Regions from separate parts of the Homo sapiens genome. Here region 2 is linked to region 1. The links come from fine-mapping of genetic effects on gene expression. Tissue or cell type: whole blood. Region 1 holds a variant in brackets; the other region holds the start of a gene. All regions are shown on one strand. Distances are from middle to middle.

What was found. PIP is the estimated chance that this variant, and not a neighbour inherited with it, causes the effect.
Region 2: RASSF4 starts here. The variant in region 1 is fine-mapped to the expression of RASSF4 in whole blood (INTERVAL, PIP 0.98).

What each region holds. Positions count from the first base shown.
Region 1 is chr10:44,990,366-44,998,465 of GRCh38, forward strand. RASSF4 (Ras association domain family member 4) reads left to right here. Exons shown (of 11, transcript NM_032023.4): 9 at 583-704; 10 at 1,540-1,637; 11 at 2,904-5,526. The coding sequence ends at 2,964. LOC124902530 reads left to right here and starts at 3,671. Exons shown (of 3, transcript XM_047426129.1): 1 at 3,671-3,806; 2 at 4,440-4,576. The coding sequence starts at 3,671. It overlaps ZNF22-AS1 (ZNF22 antisense RNA 1), which reads right to left. Exons shown (of 4, transcript NR_126421.2): 4 at 3,567-3,841. RefSeq lists enhancers at 637-1,328, 1,358-1,859, 1,860-2,359. The variant C/CT (reference allele first, on the strand shown) is at 4,365.
Region 2 is chr10:44,955,642-44,963,734 of GRCh38, forward strand. RASSF4 (Ras association domain family member 4) reads left to right here and starts at 4,161. Exons shown (of 11, transcript NM_032023.4): 1 at 4,161-4,225. TMEM72-AS1 (TMEM72 antisense RNA 1) reads right to left here and starts at 4,048. Exons shown (of 8, transcript NR_033842.1): 1 at 3,951-4,048. RefSeq lists an enhancer at 3,840-4,134 and a silencer at 3,912-4,131.

The DNA.
Region 1 (8,100 bases):
TTTGGAATATCCAGGGATGAATGGTCAGAATTTGGGCTTAAATAGCATATTCACAAAAGAGCAGTAAGTTTTTAGAGAAGTGACAAGACAGAGGAGAAGGGCCTGAGTTTCTGGGGAGGCGAAGGGTGGGAAGGTCACCGCACGGGGAGCTGCGGGAAGGGAAGGGCTTCAGCGGGACGTGCTGTGCAGGTTCCTCTGGTGCCCTCTCCAGGCTGAGGAGGGGCTCGGGTTGTCTCTGGTGATTAACTCCATCATTGCCTAGAGAGGGACGGGGGCACACCTTGACAAATTTATGTCCTGCTTTTTGGCAAATAGGGGAGGGCAAAGAGCCTCACTTGTATCTTCTTCTTCTCAATTGCCAGCCGCTCCACTTAATCCTTATGCCAAAGTGGCAGATCTGGGGGCCCTGTTCTGCCTCCCTTCTGCATGAGCAGGAATCTCTCAGGGCAGCGCTGTTAGCGAGGTCTGTGTTCTTAGGGTTCCCTGCGCCCCTAGACGCACATTTTCTATCAGTTCCTAATCTGGAACAGACAGAGGTGATCCTAATCTCCCGTGATTTTTGTAAACCACCTTCTTTTTCAGAGCGGACAAAATTAAAAGACTGCGAGTACCCGCTGATTTCCAGAATCCTGCATGGGCCATGTGAGAAGATCGCCAGGATCTTCCTGATGGAAGCTGACTTGGGCGTGGAAGTCCCCCATGAAGTGAGTGGGGGCCAAGGCTGGGGAGGCCTGCTCTAGGGTGAGGGGTTCTTGGGTGACGGGGCCTCCCAAGGACTCCTGGCCAGAGCCCTGTCAGTTGATGTCTCCAGGAGCTCCACACTCTCCCAAAGGGCTCCCAGCCTAGCACAGGGAGGCGCCAGCCCTCCCTCTCCCATCAGTGACCGCCAGCACCAGCAGCTTAGGGGAAAGAAGAATTTGGGTCCTATAAAACCATGGCCTGTCCTTTTCCTCTAGGGAAGTAAAGTCTTTTCCTTCATTGGAATGTATTTTGTTGTCATTATGTGAGAGACCTATGCAAAGGCTTTTTAACTAGGCCCTACCTCGCACCTGTGGAAAACAGGGAGATATTTAAGTCTTACCAACAGCCTGAGTTCTGACCAGACAGTGAGTGCATTTCCAAACTCCTCTGCATAGAAGATGCTTACAGGGTTTGAACCTCAAGTAGGAGGCCTAGTGACCCCGTATCCCTCAGGCTGCTGCAATTGCATTCCATTGTTAGAAACAATGGTGCTCCCACCTCCCTACCCCCTAGCCCAGAGGGCACCCAATGTGACAATGCTGCTGTACTGAATGCTCTTCCTAATATTCAGTTTAATATTTCCTCCCAGGGATAACAGTTGCCTTTGAGATAGTAATAGGCTCCCGTCCTGGCATCTGTACACAACACAGCAGTGTGGGGGTGGGGTGGGAAAAGCGGCAGCTCCTTCTGTGGATACAAGATGTTGGCTGGATGGGCCACTATGGAAGCCTTGAGGAAAAGAAAACATACTTTTGGCTTCGAATTTAAAGCACATTAAAATGTTCTTGGATTTTCTAGGTCGCTCAGTACATTAAGTTTGAAATGCCGGTGCTGGACAGTTTTGTTGAAAAATTAAAAGAAGAGGAAGAAAGAGAAATAATCAAACTGACCATGAAGTAAGCAGCACTTAAACAGACAGTCATGGGTCCTGAACATCAGGGCAGGTCTGCAAAGCACAGCACCAGTGCCGGCTGGGAGGTCTCTCTCCTCCATGGGCACCAGTACCCTGGTACGGGAAGGCCTGCTAACCCTAGCTCCCCAGCATCACCCTCTGGCCCCCTGCTCGGTATTGCCACCACGCTGGGGTGACAGCTTGCCAAAACAGTGGGACACAGCCCCGATCACCCATCCAGTCTTGGCATCCTCACCAGCGCAGGCATGAGCTGCAGAACACCTGGCAGGAAAGTCAGGCAGGAACCCAAGTGGGCGCTGGGTCAAGCTTCTGAGTTCTGCTGGTGATGTGGCTCCAAGGAGCAGGCATGCTGAGGCAGACTTGGCCTGATTAGGGCCTTTTGTCCTAGTGGGAATTCTGAGCCTTCCCCAAAGTGGCAGATGCTGGAACTCCCAGCCTCAGCCGATGTTTTCAGGTGCAGAGGGCTAGTTCAATGAAAAGGTGAGCAGGTCTCACCTGCCAGCTCCTGGGGACACCACGCCAGGGTCCGGATGCATGAGTTAGCCAGGCTGTAGTCCCAATGACGTCTCCCCCTCAGCAAAGTGAAGTGTGGTCCAGGACTTGTGGAGGGCACCCCACCAGGGCTGGTGGGGAGGCAGCTAGGAAGGAAAGGGCAGGAGCTCACTGAGAGGGCCTGGGGTGTGTGGGGAAAGGATGGATGTTAGCCTCTGGTTGAATGACCCGTGGAAAGCCACATCCTCCACAGGCTCCTGTCTGTGCAGCCAGACCCCAAACAGGCAGAGGAGACCAAAGTCAGAGGGAATCTTCCATTCTGCAGTCAGTCCTGACCCCGTAAGATTTGAGAGCTGAAAGGGATCTGGGGGGCAACTAGTGGGTCCACTCAACGTACAGAGTGGACGCTGAGGCCCAGCACAAGGAAGGTTGCCGCATAGGTTATGGCAGAATCTGGGCTGAAACATGGGCTTCCCGATCTCTGCTCTACCGCCCTGTCCACTCCAGTGTGCTGTTGTCTGTATTAGAGTCTGCAATAGAAATGACAACACTCTGCTCTGATGCTCTGTGCAGTCCACAGCCTGGTTTGACTGCACCTCATGAGGCGCAGGCCACAGCCTTCCCCCTCCTTGGCAGAGGAGAGATGAGGCTGCTGCAGGGATCTCCTGAGCTGGCCATCTGCAGGTCCCTTGCTCTGCTGCCCACCTCCCTGCCCTGTCTGGCCTCAGTGAGTCCTCTTGGCGATGTCTCCCTCCAGGTTCCAAGCCCTGCGTCTGACGATGCTGCAGCGCCTGGAGCAGCTGGTGGAGGCCAAGTAACTGGCCAACACCTGCCTCTTCCAAAGTCCCCAGCAGTGGCAGGTGTACACTGAGCCCTGGTTGCTGGCCCCGGCCGGTCACATTGACTGATGGCCACCGCCTGACGAATCGAGTGCCTGTGTGTCTACCTCTCTGAAGCCTGAGCACCATGATTCCCACAGCCAGCTCTTGGCTCCAAGATGAGCACCCACAGGAAGCCGACCCAGGCCTGAGGGGCCAGGAACTTGCTGGGTCAGATCTGTGTGGCCAGCCCTGTCCACACCATGCCTCTCCTGCACTGGAGAGCAGTGCTGGCCCAGCCCCTGCGGCTTAGGCTTCATCTGCTTGCACATTGCCTGTCCCAGAGCCCCTGTGGGTCCACAAGCCCCTGTCCTCTTCCTTCATATGAGATTCTTGTCTGCCCTCATATCACGCTGCCCCACAGGAATGCTGCTGGGAAAAGCAGGGCCTGCCAGCAGGTATGAGATCTAGCCTGCTTTCAGCCATCACCTTGCCACAGTGTCCCCGGCTTCTAAGCCTCCAATATCACCCTGTGAGCCTCGCACAGCTCAGCCCCAACACAGAGGTGAGACCAGGAATAAGGCCACAAGTATCTCACTTTCTCTGCAGAAATCAATCTTTACTTCATCAGAGAGACCTAAAGCGATTCTTACAAGGAGCTTGCTGCAAGAAACACGGTCATTCAATCACATTGAGGAGGGTCCACATGGCATTGAGAGGGTGCTGCCCGCTCAATGCCCAGCAGCAGCTCTGGAAGGCAGTGCTCAGCCCCATCACCACTGTCCCGTGGATGCCTGTGTACCTCTTGCCTTTTCTGGGCTTGCGTTTCTCTCCTCTAGTGGGTGGGGATGACTTTCAATGACTTTCAATACTTCCCCTGAAGGAAGAATGATAAGGAGAAATGTCTGTTTTGAGGAAAGGGCTTTGAATTCCCCAGATACTGAACAATTTGTGTTTGTGACTGATGGAGAATTTCAGGAATGAATGAGAAAGCCTTTGCGAAACTATGCAACAGTTTACATCAGTCATGTGAAGTATTTGTCTAAAACAGAGCAAACTGAAGACCAAATTATTCTCCTGTTGAGGTCCGTGGATGGCAGATTTAAAGGGAAGAACCACAAAGGCTTGCAAAGATAGGAGAGGCTCCATCTCTAATGCATGTAGAAGCTCCTTACGGGTGCCCATCAAGAGCATAGCTTGGAAGCCACCATGCTGTGCGGAACTGCGTCAGGGCAAATGTCACAGCAGGATTTCCCCAACCCAGCTCCATCATCACAGACACAGAGAGCTGCAGGGGAGGCCTGCCCACTGTTTTGTCGACTCTGCCCTCCTCTGGCAGCATAGATCCTTAGGTGCTCAATAAAGGTGTGCTGTATTGAACTGAAGAAGTGAGAACCAAG[C/CT]TTTTTTTTTTTTTTTTGCTTTCTGTGCATCCACCCTGACCCCCGGCTCTAACTTCTGAAACTCTTATCCTAAAGGATGTGTGGCCATGTTTGGCAGAAGAGCCACAACTCGCTGCTCTAGGAGCCGACATGACTCCTTCATTTCTGTGCATGCCCTGGGGACTAGGGTGGAGCCTGAGGAGAGGCTGCCATGGAACACGCAGGCGTCACTGGTGGGAGCCTAGAGGTGACCTGGATGATGAGCAATAGAGTCACCCCGAGTCACAGAATCTTAGCATCAGGAGGGCCCCAAGAATCTTCCAGGCCAGGGGCTCAGGTGGGATGGAAGCAGGGCCTAGGAGAGGGTACAAAACAAATCAAACAGGAGCTCCCAGGTAATTGTACTCCCAAGCTATTATTTACAATCTCAGGTGGAGGACAGCTCCTGTCCCATTGTTCAGCTGTAACTGAGTGACTGCCTTGTGCCAGGCCTGTGCTCAGCCCTGGAGGCACAAAGATGGAGCCAGTCTGTCCTGTGTCTAGGGGTCTTCTCATCAGGAGAAGAAGGCCAGACACTGGAAGGGTCAAGAGATCAGCTGAGCAACGAACCGGCAAAGCTCCTGGGAGTGAGGTGGAGGCCAAGGCAGAGTTGGCTAAGAAGTGCATGTGGCGTCACAGGCCAAGATGCACCTGCCAGCTAGGAGCAGGCCAGGTCCTGGCACACAGGAAGCCAGTGGAGCAGGAGACCCTCCCTAAGTACCAGCCTGTTTGGTTGGTTGGTTTGCTTTTGAAAGTTATTACAATATTATTTAAGGCCTTTTCGGATAAGTTCACTTTTAAAGTAGGTGTTATCAATCTAATTTCTGAACGTTATGGGTCAGAAAAATCACTAGCAAGTGGCTCAGAAAAAGGGAAAAGGTACACTTCTGCAATCAGCTGAGGAGTTCACACCTTTTTTTCTAAATCAACATCATATTTGCTGTTCAGAGGCAATCTGAAAAGCTGCAAATTCAGCTCACCTCAACCCCATAATTTCAAACGTTAGAGGCTGGTCTCTGTGGTTTCCTACTGGTTCCTGTGGGGAGCTCCCGCTTTCTTTCTACATAGAGCTTAGGGTATTTCTCATATGCCCCATTGGCTACCTAGTGTCTCAGGTAATAAACGTATCCGAAGATAAAGCAAAGATTGCTATGGGAGAGTGTTGTCTCCTAAAATAGGACTGTCTTGCCAGGCCAGGCCTCAAGAACCAGAGAGAATAATAAACAGCACAGGATGAAATCAGCATGATTGCAAAAGGACTGGACTCAGGAAAAACAAGTTTGTTTGCCCAGAACAAATTACCAGAAGGGATCAAAAACATCTTGTTTTTCTTTGGTGATAACCATATGCTACCGGATTGGAATGTTTACCAGAAAATGGAATAAAGACCTTCCCACTGGCAAAATAGAGCCAGGGTTCACCCAGGATACATCTGGCCCCTTAGTCCCATGGAAACAAGGCCCAAAGCTTATCCAGTCTGACCAGATGATTTGTGGAGGAACCAGCCCTGCAAAATGTGTCCCGGGTGTGTAGGACGCAGGTGCCTTGCAGCTGCGGAGGGGCAGCGGGATATCCTTGCCAGGTGCAGTGGTGGGCAGCATCCCCCTGCCCTCAGTTCCTCAGTGGTGATCAGACAGGAAGCTTGGTCGATCAGAGCCAAGCAACTGAGTATAAAAACAGCCAGATGCATGGGCTATATTTAGGCCCTGAGAGCTGCGATTGTTTGGGATCAGGCTAGCTGCTCACGTGCCCTGCCTGAGACTCACGTTGTGCAGGGTAGGGCCCTGTGCCCTCCTGGTCAACTTTTAACAGAGATGTTTTCTCAGACCTAGGAATGGGAACTCCCAGGGTTTTCTTTCCCAGAGAGTCCAAAGGAAACAGAAAGCCAAGTCTCAGGCTTGGTGGAAAGAACCATTGTTCAGGATCCCTGGGCTGAGAGTTCTTGGTGGGAGACGGACCACTGTTGTTACCGCACATGAGCCACACCTATAACTGCCTTTCTGGCACTTGGGCTGGGGATCCATGTTGCCAAACACAGACCCAAGGCAGCAGTGCTCCCTGCTGAGACAGCGTGTGTGTGTGTGTGTGTGTGTGTGTGTGTGTGTGTCTGTGTGTGTGTGCGCAAGCCAGTGGTGTGCAGGGGACAAAGACATAGGAAAATGAAACTGTCTTGCCAGGATTTTTCTCACCCCAGAAGACTCTTTTTCCTGGAATGAACCCTTCAAATACCACTGGGCTCAGGGACACACTGGTCCCTGCTGGGTAGTTTCCCAGAGATGTCCCAGCCACTAAGGGATCTGGCCTCTCTTGGGCCAGAATCCCCAGAAATATGTGCAGAAAGATGCCCAGACTGTGTCCACCCCCTGCCTCCCACACCCTTGTTCCCTTTCTCCCTTGTGTTTTGTAAATATCATGCGTGACCATTTTCAATAATTTAATTTGCATAAAAATTGCCTAGAATCCCATTTGGGAGATAGACTGTTATAGAGAGGTTAATAGGCTCTGGAGCCAGGCTTTCTGATTTCAAAGTCTGGCTTTGCCACTTACAAATGTGCATGACCTTGGGCGAGTTTCTTGCCTCAGTTTTCTCATCTGTGAAATGGGGATTCTGTGTGGAAGAAAACAAAGTGCTTTCTACTATTCTCTCACTCAGCAGCAATAATCACAAAAGACTTCTGTGACCAAACGGGGTGAGGGATTCTCCCCACACACCAACCAAGCAATCATTTCTGCAGGGACACCAGCTGGGTGTCCTCTAATTCAGTTTTGACACTATCTACTTGGAGATGGCATCACCTCCCATAGGTTGAGGGCTCAGTCCCATAAGATGGTCTCCACCCTTCCCATTAGTTACAAGCCCTGGCCTCTGGAACTTGTGAACTACCCACTTCAAGTTGGGATTCTCGTGACCCCCTCCTTGGGTTAATTTGCAAGAGCGGTTCACAGAACTCAGCGAAACACATTTCCTGGTTTATTACAAATGATATTCCAAAGGATATAGAAAAAGAAATGCATATAGTGAGGTATGAAGGAAAGGGTGCGGAGCTTCCATACTCCTTCCCCTTTGCACCCCCCGACCCCAGGTGGCACCCTCCAGTAACATCCATGTGTTCAGGTATCCAGAAGCTCTCTGAACCCAGTCCTTTGGGAGCTTTTATGGAGACTTTGTAACACAGGCATGATTGATTAATCCATCAGCCATTGGTGATCCACTTCACCTTCAGTTGCCCTCCTCCCCAGATGTTGATGGGGTGGAGCTGAAATTGCCATCCTTCTAATCCTGCTGTGGTCTTTCCAGTGACCAGCCCCATCCTGAAGCTACCCAGGGGCTGCCAGGCATCAGTCAACTCATCAGCATATAAAAAGACATCACTTTGGAGATTCTAAGGATTTTAGAAGTTGTATGTCAGGAAACGGGGAGAAGATCAACTATGTATTTCACAATATCACAGGATAATAACAATTCCTATCTCTTACGGTTGGTGGGAGGTACATTAGTCAACTTTAATGCAATAATACCACCAAGAATCTCAGTGTTACAAGAGCATTTGTTTCTCTAACATTACGTGGGACCGTTGTGGTTACATGTGAGCTTCTGTGGCTCTGCTCCATGTGTCTTATCATCCTGGTTCCTAGACTAAAGGGGCAGCCCCTACTTGGGACATGCTATTCTCAAGGCAGAGGGAAAGAGCAGAGTCCTGGCAGAAACACAATGACT
Region 2 (8,093 bases), 35 kb before region 1:
AGCCTTTATCAAGCTCTTAGGCTCTTATGAGCTTCCCTACTTGCGAATTAAACATAAATTTATCCTTTGCGGCTCTTTCATAAAAACACTGGCTCATGAGTGTTTCCATTTGTCTTTTTACGGATCTTACAAGTCAGTCCAAACTGTTTGCAGAATAACAGCATTTCCTAAGTCTTTCTGAGGTAGGAAGGCCAAAAAGAATGCAATTGCCCAAGACGAACAGGACACCCTGCTCACTTAATGGACTCCCAAAGGCCTCCTTTACTGGGGCGGCGCCCTGGAGCAAGGAGTCTTGCAGGAACTTCTGTGTGGCCTTGGCTCCCCTGAGACCCAGTGTGTTCCATTAGAGGTAGATGTTGTTTTTCCCTCACTCCCGGGTGGTACAGACACCACCACATTGGGCCATCAGGCACAAACCTGGACTCTGCCACTATCTGCACATGTCATTTGGAGGGGGAACTCAGCCTCCCTGAGTTTGTTTTCTTACCTGAATCTGGCAAAAAGAAAAAAAAAAAATCAATCATACATCAGATATTGATTAAACACTGTGACAATCCAGACAGAATCAGTTTTTAAGGAAACATAGTGTCTCTTCCTCTAGGAGCTCATGATAAAGACTGGAATATACAGCATGCCAGAGTGGTATGCGTGGGTCAGGGACGGGCATTTTACAGAGGGCCCAGGGACGACCTGAAAAAGGAGGTGATTTGTGATTAAAGACCTGAAGCAGGGGAAGGAGGGAGCGCTGTGGACATCTGGGGAAAGAGCCCTCCAAGGGAAGGAATGACCCTGACAGGAACAGGCTGGGTGTGTGGGAGAAACAGTGTGATCAGAGCAGGGAGAAGGAGAGGCAGTAGGAGGAGATGAGGTCAGAGAGACAATTAGGGGACAAGATCATCTAGGGAAGGGGTTGGCACACTATAGCCCTGCCATCCATTTTTTAAAATAGTTTTATGAGAACCACAACCATGTCCTTTGGTTTACATATTGTCTATGGCTACTTTCAAACTACCCCAGTAGTGGTGAGTAGTTGTGACACGGACCATTTAGCCCACAAAGCCTAAAATATTTACTATCCAGCCCTGTACAGAAAAGGTTTACCAACCTCTGCCTTGAAGAAATAGGGGCTAATTTTTCTCCATGGTAGGGAGTCTGGAGTAGGCAGTGCAGGGTTGGTGCAGAAGCTCCATGATGTTAAGAAGGATCCAGACACCTTTGATCTTTATGCTCTGCCAGCCTCAGCATGCGGACATGTTGCTTTATGATCTCAACATGGCTGCCAGTGCTCCAGACATTACACATCATGTCCTCATTTGAGACAGGCAGGCAGGAGAGACATCTGTTCTTTCTACCAGAAAAGCAAAAGTTATCTTCACCATCCCTCAGATCTCTCCTCCCCCAGGACACCTTCCCCCATCTCTGCGTCCAGAAGTAGGTCGTATGGCCACTTCTAGCTTCACTGAAAAAAAGCTATGAAAAGGATTGTCAAGACTTAGACAGCTGTTTTGTTTTTTTTAACTGTAACCCACAGTAAGAAGCACACATAACTGAAACATAAACAATGCAAACAAAAAGTTCCACAAAACACAACTTATATTTACTATTTGTGCTGTACACTGGTATTTTCCCTTGCATTTTTGAAGTACTAGTCACATCATCAACTAAATTAATTTCATGACCCACTATTGGGTTGTAAGTAGAGTATGAAAAATACAAGTGGGCATGAGCCATAACTAGGGGCTGGCATGTTGCTGCTACAGACAAGTGGGTATTTCTCTCTCCTTTCCTTCCCTCCCTCCCTCTCTCTTTCCTCTCTTCCCCATTCCCTCTTTCCTCCCTCCCTCCTTCCTTCCCTCCTTTCCTTCCTTCCTTCCCTCCTTTCCTTCTTTCCTTCCTTCCTTCCGTCCTTCCTTCCTTCCTCCCTCCCTCTTTCCCTTTCTTCCTTCCTTCCTTCCTTTTTGTCCTTTTCCTTCTTTCCTATCTTTCTTTTTTCCAAAGAAGGAAATGGACATTGGCTGGCAACCAACAGTATCTGTAGCCTCCACCATAAGTGAGCTGGAGACCACACCCAGTTCTACTGAACCCTGAAAGAAAAGGTGACCCCTCCTTCTGAGGGGTCTGACAATGGACCCTCCCCTTCTGAGGGGAGGACGCTGACAATGGACACCTGTGTCTGATGTAAAATGCAAGCACTCACAGCCATAAAAGAGAATAAAATCGTGTCCTTTGCAGCAGGATGGATGTGGCTGGATGCCATTATCCTAAGCGAACTAATGCAGAAATAGAAAAGCAAACACCACATGTTCTCGCTTACAAGCAAAAGAGCTAAATATCGGGTTCACCTAGACATAAAGATAAAAACAATAGACACTGGGGACTTCAAAAGTGGGAGGGAGACAGCGGGGCGAGGGGTGAAAAACTTCCTATTGGGTACTATGCTCACCATCTGGGTGACAGGATCAATCCCAAACCTCAGTACCACACAATGTACAATTGTAACAAACCCGCACGTGTATCCCCTAAATTTAAAATAAAAATGGAAATTTTAAAAAATGCAAGCAGTAACACCAACTGCCCAGGAGTGCTGGGGGAATTGCATGGGATCCCCAATGTAAAGCACTAGCATAGTGTCTGAGCCCACAATGGGTGCACAGGACACATGGGGTTGCTGTCCCAAACCCAGTCCTCACTCAGAGCCAGTCATGGCCCTGTGAACAGCATTAATTAGGTCAGAGAGAATGATTCACACTCGAGTTCTGGAGAGCCCAGGGAAACTGTTATGTCACCCTGGTGCTATGTTTACTTCTCCTATCAGGAGTGATTAAATTCTTAGGATCTCATGCTCAGAGGTTGACAGTTATATTGAATTTTACCCACTTTTAAAAAACCTTTGGAAGCACCCGATTATTTGTCTCAGCTTTGATGAGGGCTGTGGAAGAGCAAATGTGTCATGACAAGTCACCAACCACAGGGAGCCTCAGAGCTGTCAAAGGATGGGCCATTCTCCAAAAATTCAAGCAAACGCAGAAACGGGAGGGCCCCTGGACTGGGTATCTTCAGTCCTGTCACTTTTTGCAGGTGGGGGTTCCAACATAAGTCATACAGCAGCCATACAAGCATTAGCACAGCCCCTCTAAGTCGAAGTTCAGGGACCCATGAGACTCAAATCCCAGGCTGATTTTGGTGCATATGGCCACCTGCACTTTCTAGAAGATCCATATCAGATTCTAAAATGGCCATGAGACCCTAAAAATATTAGGAAACGCACACTGAATGAAACTAAAATGATTTATGTTAGGGGTGGGAGAGAACAGGTCCAGAGGTCAGAGCTGGGAATCGTGAGGTAAAGCAGAAATTGCAAATGTTTTCCATCAACCCCATCCCCCACCTTGACACCCCCACACCCCAGAAACACTGAACTGTTCCCAGTTCCCCAAATGGCTTGTGGTTTTCTGTCCTCTCTGCCTCCGTGCTGGCAAATATTCGTCCAGGAGGCAGTGACTGGGAGAGAAAGACTAACTTCTTATTCACCAGATCGGATTTCTTAAACAATAAGGAGTTCTAAGAGGCCATGCCAAGCAAACGGCCAGACTGTACAAAGGTGCCCCTTGAGCAATAAATAGCAAATGCTCTGGGCTTTACTGATAAGCCTCCCCAGACTCCAAGCCCCACCAGGCATGCAGACAAGTGCCTGCAGTGATTGCAGCGCCTGCGCAGCGGCCCTTGTTGGAAGTCCAGGAGTCCGCGCTACCCCGCAAAGTCCCTGGCCGCTGCCCGCACACCGAACCTCTCGGGGCTGAGTCGGGCTGCTTTCTCCTCGCGTCCCGGGGCGCCCTCGGGAACTCGGGAGCGCGCGGCGAGCTGAACAATGGCCTGGGGACACCTGGCAGGTCGCAGGCCCCAAATCTTCCCCGCCGCCCCTAGGCCACCGCCCTGCACCCGGAACCTACCGGCGTTCCCAGAGCGGGGCGGACGGGGCGGTGCCATTGGCCGGTGCGGAGTGAGGGGCGTGCTCGGGGCGGGACGGAGAGACCGGGGCGGCACCTTTGGCCGTGCCGGGCGAGAGGCGGGGAGCGGGGCGGGGCGAGGGGCGAGGGGCGGGGCGAGGGGCGGGCCTGGCCCCGAGCAGCTGAAGCCTGGGGTCAGCAGGCGCTGCGGGCGCAGCTCCGGTGCAAGCGAGGACACGACACATGCAGTGGCTTCTGGACTGCGCGATGACTGGACGGTGAGTGATGAACGAGCAGGAGAGTGCTTGGGCGTCCATGGAGCATCCCCTCCGACCCAGGACTGCCACCAGGCAGGGACGCTGAAGCCTGGGCACTTGTGCCCTTCGGCCGCAGCGCGCAGGGTCCCTCCCCCGCCAGCCTGGCGCATTGCGGGCCTCGGGCTCATTGCTGAGAGGGGGCACTGCGCCTGGCACCTCTGTTAAGCAATTTAGGGGCTACAACCTGAGCAAGACAGATGAGCCCGGCCACTGGCTACACCTTTTTTGTTCACCTTGTCCTTAACCAGTTTCCTAGAAGCACTGATCCTAGAGTTGGGGAGAGAGCCTAGAGGCCTCTGGCACAACTCTGATTTCACTGATGGAAATCGAACGCCAAGATAATAGCAGCAGGGGGGGTCTGTCTCACAATCGCTGTCTGTAGAGGGCTCGCCTTGCTCTGGGCCAAGTGCTTTAACACGATATGCCTCTTACTCCTCACAGCAAGTGAGAGTCCTACTTTCGTTATCCCCTTTTCAGATGTGAAAACTGAGGCTTAAAGAGTTATAAAATTGTCCACCTTTACCGGATGAGTTGGTGATGGAGCCAGGATTTGAACCCAGGGCTTGTTGTGCCCCTGAGTCTCTTGCTCTTCACCCTTAGTCTCCGAAGGTCAGCCTGCCTGCTGCCCTGCTCTTCTGGGCTCCTGACTCCGGTCCCATCCTGCACTTCCCACTTCCAAAACATGCCTCAGTGTTTTCATTAACCTGGCACGGCGGAGGGAGGGAGGCCTCCTCTCACACCAGAATCAGTGCCCAGGCCAGGGCCAGCACTTTCTTAAAACACAGTAAGGACAGCTTCAGGAGCCCCATTTCACATAGGAATTAAATAAGGTCGCACAGCAAATAAGGGCTGGGCTTCTGGAATTTGAACCCAAGCAGGTTAGACTCCAAAGCTATGCTTTGCACTCACAGAGGAGCCCCTCGCTGGCTTTGCTGTAGTTTAACTGCCCACAGTACTAAGGTGTCAATCAGGATTTGTTGCCAGAAACCATTTTTTTTTAAGTTAGAAGTGAATTGGTGAAGTAACAGGTAAATGTAGACCATCCTGCCTTCTGTTCCTCTGTGTGGTTCCTTAGCTACTTCTGCCAGGACAGCAGGTTAGGGGAGAAGACAGGAAGGGAGAGGGTCAGAGGAGAAAGAGGAAGGGAGGGAAGAGGAGAGATGAAACTCATTAAACTTAGGTTAAAAAAATGCTGGCCGGAAATTGTCATGGGCTGTTTCAGCACTTTGTCAGTGTATGTGAAGGCTGTTGTCATTAGTTCTAGCCATAATTCTCTCAGTGTGTAGTGCTGGTGATTTGACAACAAAAAGGTTGATGCTACAGATTAAAGTGTCTGTCTGAAACTCAGGAGATTGGGTTGTATTTCCACCATGAAGCTCCAGTGGGTAGCCTGGAGGTCGAGAACAGAATCAAGGTCCAGGGTCGCCCTGGGTCAGGACCAAGTGGACCATGACAGATAACAAAGAACATGAACGAAACTTGGGTGTGTGTCAGAGTTCAGATTCTGGACGTGCAAAGCCTCAAAGGGGAGACCTAACTAGGGGATCTGCCAGAAAGCCCTCTGCCCTGGGCCCCTGGGGTCTGGGGCCTGGTTTCAGGTGTCAGCTCAGACTCTCTCCTCATTCATGGCCACTCCTGCAGGCAGGCCTCACATTCCCATCTCTGGGGCTCCACAGTCTCTCCAGAGCCCCCAACTCCCAGTGTCAATAAGAATAGTAATGGGAGCCTCTTTTCATTATGGGTGAGCCCAACACAAGGCCCATCTTACAGGTCTCCTCATTCGTCTTCACAGAAGTCATCGAGGATTATAGTTATTTAATTGATGAGGAGCCCAAGGTTCAGAGAGGGAACTGGACTTGCTTAAGGTAACAGAGCCAGGCAGTCACAGAGCAGAGCTTTAAACCCAGAGCCTTGCAAAGGCTAGGTGGTTATTCTCTCACAGAGTATGTTTGGGGAAATTGTTTTAAAATAAAGAAAATCAAATAAGAAGTGGCTGCACTTCCTAAAGCTTCAACAGTTTTCTTATTTTTGTAAAAGAGAAACTTGTAGTTCCCGGGGTCTCCTTTTCTGGCTGTCCCACCTTCTGCCCTAGGATATACTGTTGAGGAAGAGGCCCGGAACCCCCTCCCTTTGCCCTGCCTGACCTTGGGAAGCAGGGGTGGGGTGTCATTGAGCCCCATAGCTGCAGTGCTGGGAAGAGCCCTGAAGACTCTCTATCAGCTGCCACAACAGCTCTGGCTAAACTGATGCCCAAGAGACGGCGCAACACGCTAGGATCACAGGCCAAGTTAATGCCACAGCAAAACTCACATGCAAGGCTCTACAACGTTCCTCTGCCTCCTCTTTCTTGCTGTGACAGGTTTCAGCAGAGATTCTAAACCTAAGATCTGGGGATCTGGGAGTACATGGACAAGAGCTGTCTCATCTCCCTGCAGTGATATGCAAATTGTGTGTGTGTTTGCACGTGGATGCAGATTGCAACAACATGCACATACATGCATTTTCTGGGGAGAGTGCACTAAGCTTTCAAGAGACTCCAAAGGACTCTATGACCCAAAAGATTCTGGGACCCTTTTGTCTCACAGGGCCCTTATGTCCCCAGCAGTGACATGTGGCACACAGGCCTGGGGCAGTGGACAGCACAGGTGAGGGCAGCCGTAGAGAGCCTCCAGAGCAGCCCTGCAGCAGCAGGCACCCAGAGGGGTCTGCCCCTCTGCATTGCACTCCCAGCCCCAGGCAATCGGGATATTGGACAGTGCCCATTTTGAGCACGTTTGGCCCGAAAACCATAGCTAAGAAGATCTTTGTTTCTGTGGATCTTCTCTTCCATAGGCTAGAGGTGAGCCTGGTTGGTGGGGAAGTTGAGGAGTGGTTCAGGGGGTTCCAGGAGCAGAGAATGTATGTTTAAGGTGTAAGGGGGGAGCAGGAGGACTGGAAATGGTTTTCTTGTCCCAAATTGCTTTGCCTTGAAACAAGGGCAGAAGCCAGAAGTCTTGCCCACTGGGAAGGCTGGTCTGCGATCTACATGGCTGCTCAGGGCCAGGCTCTCAGAGGAAGGGGAGCTGTATCAGGGAGGCCTGGATGCTGGACTGGACTCAGAGAGACCTGTCAGTGAGAGGCCAGAACCGCAGCGGGGAGTAAAGGTGAGCTGGGCCTGTGTGGTCAGTCCAGGGCAAGGCGGGAGTGGAGGTGGAGGGGAGCTCTGTGCCCGCCTCTCCTGGACTCCCCTGGTCTCCATCACCTCCACCTGGACAGTGCAGAGTCTTCTGGGGCAGGGAGGAGTGAGTTGAGCCAGAGGGATGATGGCGGGAGTGGAGAGGAGGGGTCTGGTGATTGGAACTGGGCAGCAGGAGGGGACAGCAGTGTGGAAGGAGGTGGGAGCAGCAGCTGCTGAGTCGCCGCCTGCCATCTACAACCAGACAGCCGGCTCTCACCACAAAAATGCTTGGCTGAGGGTACCCCCTCAGAGGCACCTGGTTTCGGCAGACGCTGCAACTTCTTCACTGGCCAGGCTCCTGCCATTTGCTGGCGAACAGGTGCTGGGAGGGGCCTTTTAAAGCTTCATTGTCCTCTGTGCCCTGCTGCCGTTGTGGCTGGCAATTCGAATGTGGTAGCCACAGACTGCAGTCAGGAACTTAGTCCCCCCAGGAATGCCGTCAGCGTGGCCTGCACCTGCTCTGTGGCCTGCACTTGCTGTCCTCCACCAGCGGGAGCAGCTCAGGCTCCCAGCTGTGCCCCACACACTTGTCCTCCTTTCTTTTGCTTCCCAGGTCACTTTCGTTATGACCTATTTGATTTAAATCACGCTGAAATAAGAAAATAAAAATCA